2 linked regions of the Homo sapiens genome follow. The protein of the gene in region 1 purifies or fractionates together with the protein of each later gene. This does not show direct contact. Each region holds a gene or a part of one and is shown in the gene's direction. Other genes may lie near its edges.

What was found.
Region 2: the proteins of SOX21 (region 1) and RIOX2 purify together in Homo sapiens (affinity purification with mass spectrometry; one large-scale study listed by BioGRID and IntAct). This does not show direct contact.

What each region holds. Positions count from the first base shown.
Region 1 is NC_000013.11:94,710,442-94,714,351, reverse strand, and holds the start of SOX21 (transcription factor SOX-21), read left to right. Parts: upstream 1-1,806; 5' UTR 1,807-2,302; coding exon 2,303-3,133; 3' UTR 3,134-3,910. UniProt on the Homo sapiens protein: May play a role as an activator of transcription of OPRM1. Overexpression of SOX21 can up-regulate the OPRM1 distal promoter activity in mor-expressing neuronal cells. May play a role in ameloblast differentiation.
Region 2 is NC_000003.12:97,955,357-97,959,166, reverse strand, and holds part of RIOX2 (ribosomal oxygenase 2), read left to right. Parts: coding exon 1-116; intron 117-3,810. UniProt on the Homo sapiens protein: Oxygenase that can act as both a histone lysine demethylase and a ribosomal histidine hydroxylase. Is involved in the demethylation of trimethylated 'Lys-9' on histone H3 (H3K9me3), leading to an increase in ribosomal RNA expression.

The sequences.
Region 1 (3,910 bases):
TTTTTTTTAAAAAACTGCTCTAACTACTAAAGAAGGAAATTATGCTTAGCATAAAAATATTCCAGCACTGAGTGATTGGTACGTTTTACTTCTCTCTTCCAGGGAAACTACTTACACTTATTGATTTTAAACACCTTCACCTCAGCAGCGCATGTAAGTGAGACACTGTAAGTTAACTGTACCTTAAAGAGATCAGTATATAGATGGTTCTGGCGACCAAGATTACAACAAAAGACAAACAACACAGAATTTTTAAAGAGCTGAATAGTCAGTCAAGGATGCATACTCTCAGTCTGGGCTAGCTCTTTTTTGGAAAGGTTGCCAAGAATGTCCTTATTCCCTCCAGAGTTATTTTTCACTCCACTACCTCTGACTAGGTGCATCGCCAGTGCAAGAAAATGCGAGAAGCCTCTGTTTCTGTTGCAAGCAACACCTGGACCTCCAAGGAAAATGAGCACTTTCTTGCTAGGAACAGTCTCAAACATTTTCAAGGGTGAGTCTCCCCTTCTCCAGGTTTAACCCTCTTCCTCCGTAGCTGGAGAGGCTCTCCTACTCGTGCCCGCCGCCTTCTTCCTCCCGGCGAGGATTCCAGGGCCACAACCAGGGCAGCTGCACGCCAGGCCGGCCTGGGTAGCCGGGATGACACCAGGGTTTGCCAACGCCAAACAGGGCGCAGACTCCCCGGCGCGCTCCGGACTCTCCACTCGCCTAAACCTGCTCTCAAGTGAAAAGGAGTGGGAGGAGGAGGATTGGGAGGGGGCGGGGGGCGGAGGGGATCTGTTAATTCGAGGTCCTGGGGGTGTGGGAGCGGGAGGCGGCTCCGCTGATCCCTCCTCCCTCCCCGAGTCCTGGGCTCCACCTCCTCCGCAGGCCCCCAGATATACACACACAGCCGCGGCTGGACATGCACACCCAGTGCCGGCTCCGGGCGCGCACACATGCAGGTAGCCACACTCACCTGAGCCGGTGCAGAGGGCGGCCTGGGCTGGGAAGGGGCCCCCTGCGCCGCGGGAGTGGGGAGAGCGGGAGGTGCCACAGCGCGGACCTGCGAACTGAGGTGATGGCCCGTTTTCCTTAACTCTCCTGCAGCACCTCCGCCCCTGCGCCGGCTCGGCTCTGGCCACAGCAGCGAGGACAGAGGGGCCCCGGGCGCGGCGGACTCGCGGGCGCACGCTCCCAGGAGCGCGCCGAGAGGGGCGCCGCGGCGCAGGAAACTTGGGCGAAGTTAGTTGCAAGTGCCAGGCGGCTGCCGAGAAGAGCGAGGCGGGGACGCGGCCGGTGCCAGGCCTGCGGCGCCGCGTGGAGGCTGCGCTGCCCTCCGCGGCCGGCGAGCTCCGGGAGCCCTAAGTCGGCAGGCGCGCCTGAAGGGGCTCGGAGCGAACAGAGCCGGCATGGCCCAGGGGACGGCCGGACGCGGCTCCTCGGCGAGCCGGGAGAACTTCCTCTGAGGCCGGGCGACCAACGCTTGCTCAAGCCTCATCCACCCTCCTTCCTCGCCCCACCCGTCAGTCCAGCAGCGGGAGAGGAAGACTCGAGAGGCAGGTGCTGCGGGGGACAGCTCCCCCCTCCAAAAAAAAAAAATCACCCAGCCGATTGGGGGTTTCCCATCGGCGCACCCTGCCCGGAGCCAAGAAGACAGGCTGGTGCTGCTGTATTTGTATTTATATCCATTGCTGCGCTCTGCGTTCTCGTGGCACGCCTGGACACTCCTCCGCCTCCCCCTCCTCTTCCTCCTCCAGGGCCACCTCCCCGCCTTCCCCACCCCCATCTGCTTCTGTCAAATGAGAAAGTCACCGAGGAGAACCCAAACACTCCAGCCGCTGAGAGCCCCCTTTGGCACTTGGCAGCACGCGGCGGCGGGCTCCTCGGCTCAACTTCGAGGAGTCTCCGCGACGCAACTTTTGGGGACGCTTTGCATTTAAGAGAGAACGACCGAGGAGGAGGAGCGCTCTGCCCGGCCGCCGCTACCTGCGGGGAGCTCACCAGCAAACGCCACTGCAGACGAAGGACCCAAAGAACGTAAAGGGCAAACTGCCGCCGCGGGGAGGGGGCACCGCCGAGAAGTTAGAGTGTCCCAGAGACAACCTGCTCGAGCGCTCGGCCGGAGACACTAAGGCGGCCCGGGGCGCGGCGTGGCCCTGGGCTGGTCCCCCAGCCCCCTCCTCCGGGGCGGGAGCGACGCCGGGGCGCGACGAGCCCCGGCCGGCCGAGCGGGTCTCCGCGGGCAGCCAACATTGATTTCCTCCGGGCCGAGGGCGAGGGCCCGGGAGGCGGCGGGCTGCAGCCGCGGCAGGGCGAGAGCATGTCCAAGCCGGTGGACCACGTCAAGCGGCCCATGAACGCCTTCATGGTGTGGTCGCGGGCTCAGCGGCGCAAGATGGCCCAGGAGAACCCCAAGATGCACAACTCGGAGATCAGCAAGCGCTTGGGCGCCGAGTGGAAACTGCTCACAGAGTCGGAGAAGCGGCCGTTCATCGACGAGGCCAAGCGTCTACGCGCCATGCACATGAAGGAGCACCCCGACTACAAGTACCGGCCGCGGCGCAAGCCCAAGACGCTGCTCAAGAAGGACAAGTTCGCCTTCCCGGTGCCCTACGGCCTGGGCGGCGTGGCGGACGCCGAGCACCCTGCGCTCAAGGCGGGCGCCGGGCTGCACGCGGGGGCGGGCGGCGGCCTGGTGCCTGAGTCGCTGCTCGCCAATCCCGAGAAGGCGGCCGCGGCCGCCGCCGCTGCCGCCGCACGCGTCTTCTTCCCGCAGTCGGCCGCTGCCGCCGCCGCTGCCGCCGCCGCCGCCGCCGCGGGCAGCCCCTACTCGCTGCTCGACCTGGGCTCCAAAATGGCAGAGATCTCGTCGTCCTCGTCCGGCCTCCCGTACGCGTCGTCGCTGGGCTACCCGACCGCGGGCGCGGGCGCCTTCCACGGCGCGGCGGCGGCGGCTGCAGCGGCGGCCGCCGCCGCCGGGGGGCACACGCACTCGCACCCCAGCCCGGGCAACCCGGGCTACATGATCCCGTGCAACTGCAGCGCGTGGCCCAGCCCCGGGCTGCAGCCGCCGCTCGCCTACATCCTGCTGCCGGGCATGGGCAAGCCCCAGCTGGACCCCTACCCCGCGGCCTACGCTGCCGCGCTATGACCCCGCGGGGCCGCCTCGCGAGGACCGGTGTGCACACGTGTACATATGTATAGGTACGAGCGCTGCGGCCTCCCCGTGCGCCCTCCCGCGACCGGGGGCCCGGTTTGTATGTACATAGAATGTATAGGTGCCAGGTAGAGGCAGAGAGGCCAGGCGGGGCAGGAGTGGCCAAGCGCGCAAGGGCGCGGGCGAGCAGGCCTGTGAATTCGCAGGATCATTTCAGACCCGCACTTCGGCAGCCAACTCGAAAGCAGGCGGTTGTGTGCGGCAGCAGTTGGCGTTTGCTTTGCACTTCGGAACCTGTTGCGTTTTGACCCACGGAGGTGGAGGAGTAACTTTTTGACATGTTGGCCTTTCCAGTTTTGTTGGAAGTTTCATGGTCGGTTTTGTTTTTGTTTCTCATTCTTCTTCCTCGCCCCTCAGCCCCCCAACCCCCAACCCCCTCCCGGTCCGTGTTGCATGCACGCTGTTCAAATGTGAGGTCTGAAATGGCTGGCACACGGGAAAAGCTGCTTGTGTCATTCGTTTCTGGGAGTGGGATGGCTCTGAGCAGCCTCGCCTCCCTGTTTGTACTATTTGAACTTTGCAGATCTCTGTTCTCTCAAGCAGAACTCCCAACCAGATCCATTCTTGACCAGTGACCGGCTCGAATCTGGCCTTTTGTGTGAGATGATCACGGTTTCTTTTGTTTATCACGCCATTTGCAAATCAGAGCAAGAGCTCTTTCTCAAGGGCAAGAAACGCAAACAAGAAATATTTGTGAGATGAAAGTTGTCA
Region 2 (3,810 bases), on another chromosome or scaffold:
AGCTGGAGGGAGAGAAACACTGGCGCCTCTACCACCCCACTGTGCCCCTGGCACGAGAGTACAGCGTGGAGGCCGAGGAAAGGATCGGCAGGCCGGTGCATGAGTTTATGCTGAAGGTATGTGATAACCGTTGTGGGCACCTCATTGTTAGAGCCATTGTGGTTTCCCCTATTGCTAAGACAAGTTCAGGCTCAAGGTTTAGAGTTCGTGTGATGGTCCCCGTGGGAATATATCCCTGGGTTTCAGGGCAGGGTGCTTCTCATTGCTGTCAGCCAGCACATGTAATTTCTGAAGGAGTCTTGGTGGTTTGCACTTGGAGAAGTGGGTTAAGGAAGTATTAAGTTCATTTCCCAAATAACCTGTTTTCATGTACAGTTCAAGTCCAACAGGAAGAAAGAGAATTCAGTGAACCACTGACTCCTCTAGAGGAAAAATGGAAGCTCTGGCCTTGGGCAGCTTCTCCACATCCAAGACGATGGTCAGCACAGGGCTGGAAGTTGCTTAGGCAGAACATAGCCAGGGATCCCTTAGTTTTTTTTGTTGTTGTTGCTAAAATTCCAGTGTGACTCATTTTCATCCTGGTTATATGTCAGGCTATCTCTGTGCCCCCTGCATAGTTACCAGAACAGTAGTAATCAGGAAAGTTCTTGAGGATTCCTTCTCTGGGGATTCAGGTGGCTTAATCATGTGCAGGTTCCTTGGCATCTTGCTGCTGAGAAAATCTGTCTTTGAGCAGTTAACATCGATGGGAACATAGCCAATCCCCAGCAGAAGAGGTTGTTGAGGAAAAGAACGTTACATGGATAGGAGTAGTTCCATAATTCAACTTTATACTCTTTCTTAAAACATGTAACTTAATTTCCTTTAGCAATAAAACAATAGTTATTTTAAACCATTCCAAAGATTCTACCAACCTGACACATTTGCATATACTTATTGTTTTTCTTGTGTCTCGAAGTTATAATTAGCCTGTTTCTTACTCAATGCCTTGTGTGTTTCTTGATTTCAAAATCCTTACCTACCTCCCAGTAACTAAGGGAAACAATCTTGCTGTTTAGGATGGGTGCCTATATTACAGGAGACTTAAATCAATAAACAACAGTAAAGGTAACCTTACTGGTTTTTTTTATGCTTTTAGTCAGTGGTCATCAAACTGTGGCCCATGGACCAGAAAATCTGGCCTGCTGCCTGTTTTTGTAAGTAGTTTATTGGAACACAGCCACACCCATTCCTTAATGTCCTGTGTTCATACTACACCAGCAGAGCGGACTAGTTGCCACAGAGATCACATGGCCCGCAAACCAAAAATACGTACTGTCTTTCCATTTGGCTCTTCACAGAGGTTGCCAGCTTTGTTGCATCATGTTTACATAGATTCACGGTTGGTTATCTTTAAAGACTAAGCCATCTGTACTCTCGGAAGTCAGGGCTGAGTTACTCAGGCCGGTGACCTGGCTACTTGCTCTGCCCGAGAAGGTCAGGCTTCATAGTGGCCTTTAAGTGTAAAGGGTGTGGATTCTTTGTATTGTTGCCATGCCCATGCCCATTAAACAGTCAACACAGAGTCCATTAGGAGATGCACTGAGTCTCCTGGACAGAGAAAGACCATGTTGTACAGTATTGTTCAAGTGTGTATGTGTATGTGCATGTCATTTTTTTTTTTTTTTTTTTAAGACAGAGTCTCACCCTGTCACCCAGGCTGGAGTGCAATGGCGTGATTTCAGCTAGCTGAAACCTCCGCCTCCCGGGTTCAAGCAATTCTCCTGCCTCAGCCTCCCGAGTAGCTGGGATTACAGCTGCCTACCACCATGCCCGGCTAATTTTTTGTATCTTTAGTAGAGACGGTTTCACCATGTTGGCCAGGCTGGTCTCAAACTCCTGACCTCGTGATCCACCTGCCTCGGCCTCCCAAAGTGCTGGGATTACAGGCGTGAGCCACTGCGCCTGGCCCACATTTGAGCTTTTAACCAGTGGGCCTCTTCAGGCGAAACCTTGTGTCAATGCCCAATGATGAAATAGAAAGGCTTAGTGGCTGTGGTTGAGGGATGGGCATGGGAGGGTGACAGTGGGGGTCTTGGAGCCCTTATCCGCTTCTTTCCCCTATGCTAGTGGCAGCCCGTGCAGTTCATCTGCAGACCCAGACTCCCAGGATGAGATCACGCCTGTGATGGAAACACCACTCTGTGGCTCAGGGATCTGACAGATCTGAGTTTGAATTCAGCTGCTGTCACTTATTAGCTGTATGTCCTTGGTCAAGTTATTAATCCAAGTCTCAGTTTCCTCTTTATTAAAACAGAGATCATGATATTTACCTTGCAGGCTATGAGGATTGAAAAATATTATTTTGCTGCCTCCTTTACAATAAATCTTTAGGCGGGGTGCGGTGGCTCACGCCTGTAATCCCAGCACTTTGGGAGGCCGAGGCAGGTGGATCACCTGAGGTCAGGAGTTCGAGACCAGCCTGACCAACATGTAGAAACCCCATCTCTACTGAAAATACAAAATTAGCTGGGCGTGGTGGCTCATGCCTGTAATCCCAGCTACTCAGGAGGCTGAGGCAGGAGAATCACTTGAACCCAGGAGATGGAGGTTGCAGTGACCGAGATCACGCCATTGCATTCCAGCCTGGGCAACAAGAACGAAACTCCGTCTCAAAAAAAAAAAAAAATCTTTAGAGGCAATATCTGTATGTCTGTCTGAGTTTTTCTGTTGCTTCTTGTCAAATTACCACAAACTCAATGGTTTAAAACAACATAAATTCATTATTTTATGCTTCTGAAGGTCAGGAGACTAAAAGGGATCTCTCTAGGGTTGCTGTACTGCATTCCTTCAGGAGGCTGTAGGGGAGAATGTTTACTTACGTTTTCCAGCCAGGAGGGTGGGGCAAATGTGTATGAAATGAATGAAATATAGTCATGTGCCAGTTGACATTTTAGTCAACAACAGACTGTATATGTGACAGTTGTCCCATAAGGTTATAATGAAGCTGAAAAATTCCTATCACCTAGTGTTATTGTAGCCATTGTAAAATGTTGTAGTGCTACGCATTACTCACGTGTTTGTGGTGATGCTGGTCTAAACAACCCTACTTCTTTGCTAGTCATATAAAAGTGTACAGTAGGGCCCTAGGCTCTCCCATTCACTTACCATCACTGACGGGCTCACCCAGAGTAACTTCCAGTCCTATGTAGATGTACCATTTATTATTGTTTATACTGTGTTTTTTCTTGTCCACGTTTAGATATATTTAAGTACACAAACACCATTGTGTTACAGTTTTCTACAGTATTCAGTACAGTCACATGCTGTATAGGTTTGGAGCCTAGGAGCAGTAGGCTGTACCATGTAATGTAGGTAGTACACTATACTACCTAGATTTGTAAGTACACTGATGTTTGCGCAGTGACATACCACTTTTCTCAGAACATAACCCCATTGTTAAGTGGCATGTGACTGTATACCTGAGAGTCTCACTCAGGCTGGCACAGAGACACTCAGTAAATGATAGTTATAATTATCAGTAAAGCATTTACTTGAAGTACTGTCAGTTTGTTGTCATTCAGGGAAAATTTGCAACTAAGATAGCTCTTATGAATATATATCATGATATATTCCTCTTGCTTTGAGGAGAATCTTAATTTTTTTTTTTAAGCTGGCATTTCTTGAGCTCTTTCTCCAGGGCTCATGGTCTTAACCATTGCACTAGACTACCTCTTGTAGTTGCAGAGAGAAGATGAGCTGCCCTCAAGATTCCCTCTTTTCTCCATAGGTAGCTGCTACATGGAATATTTTGGCCTGAGTGGGATTGGG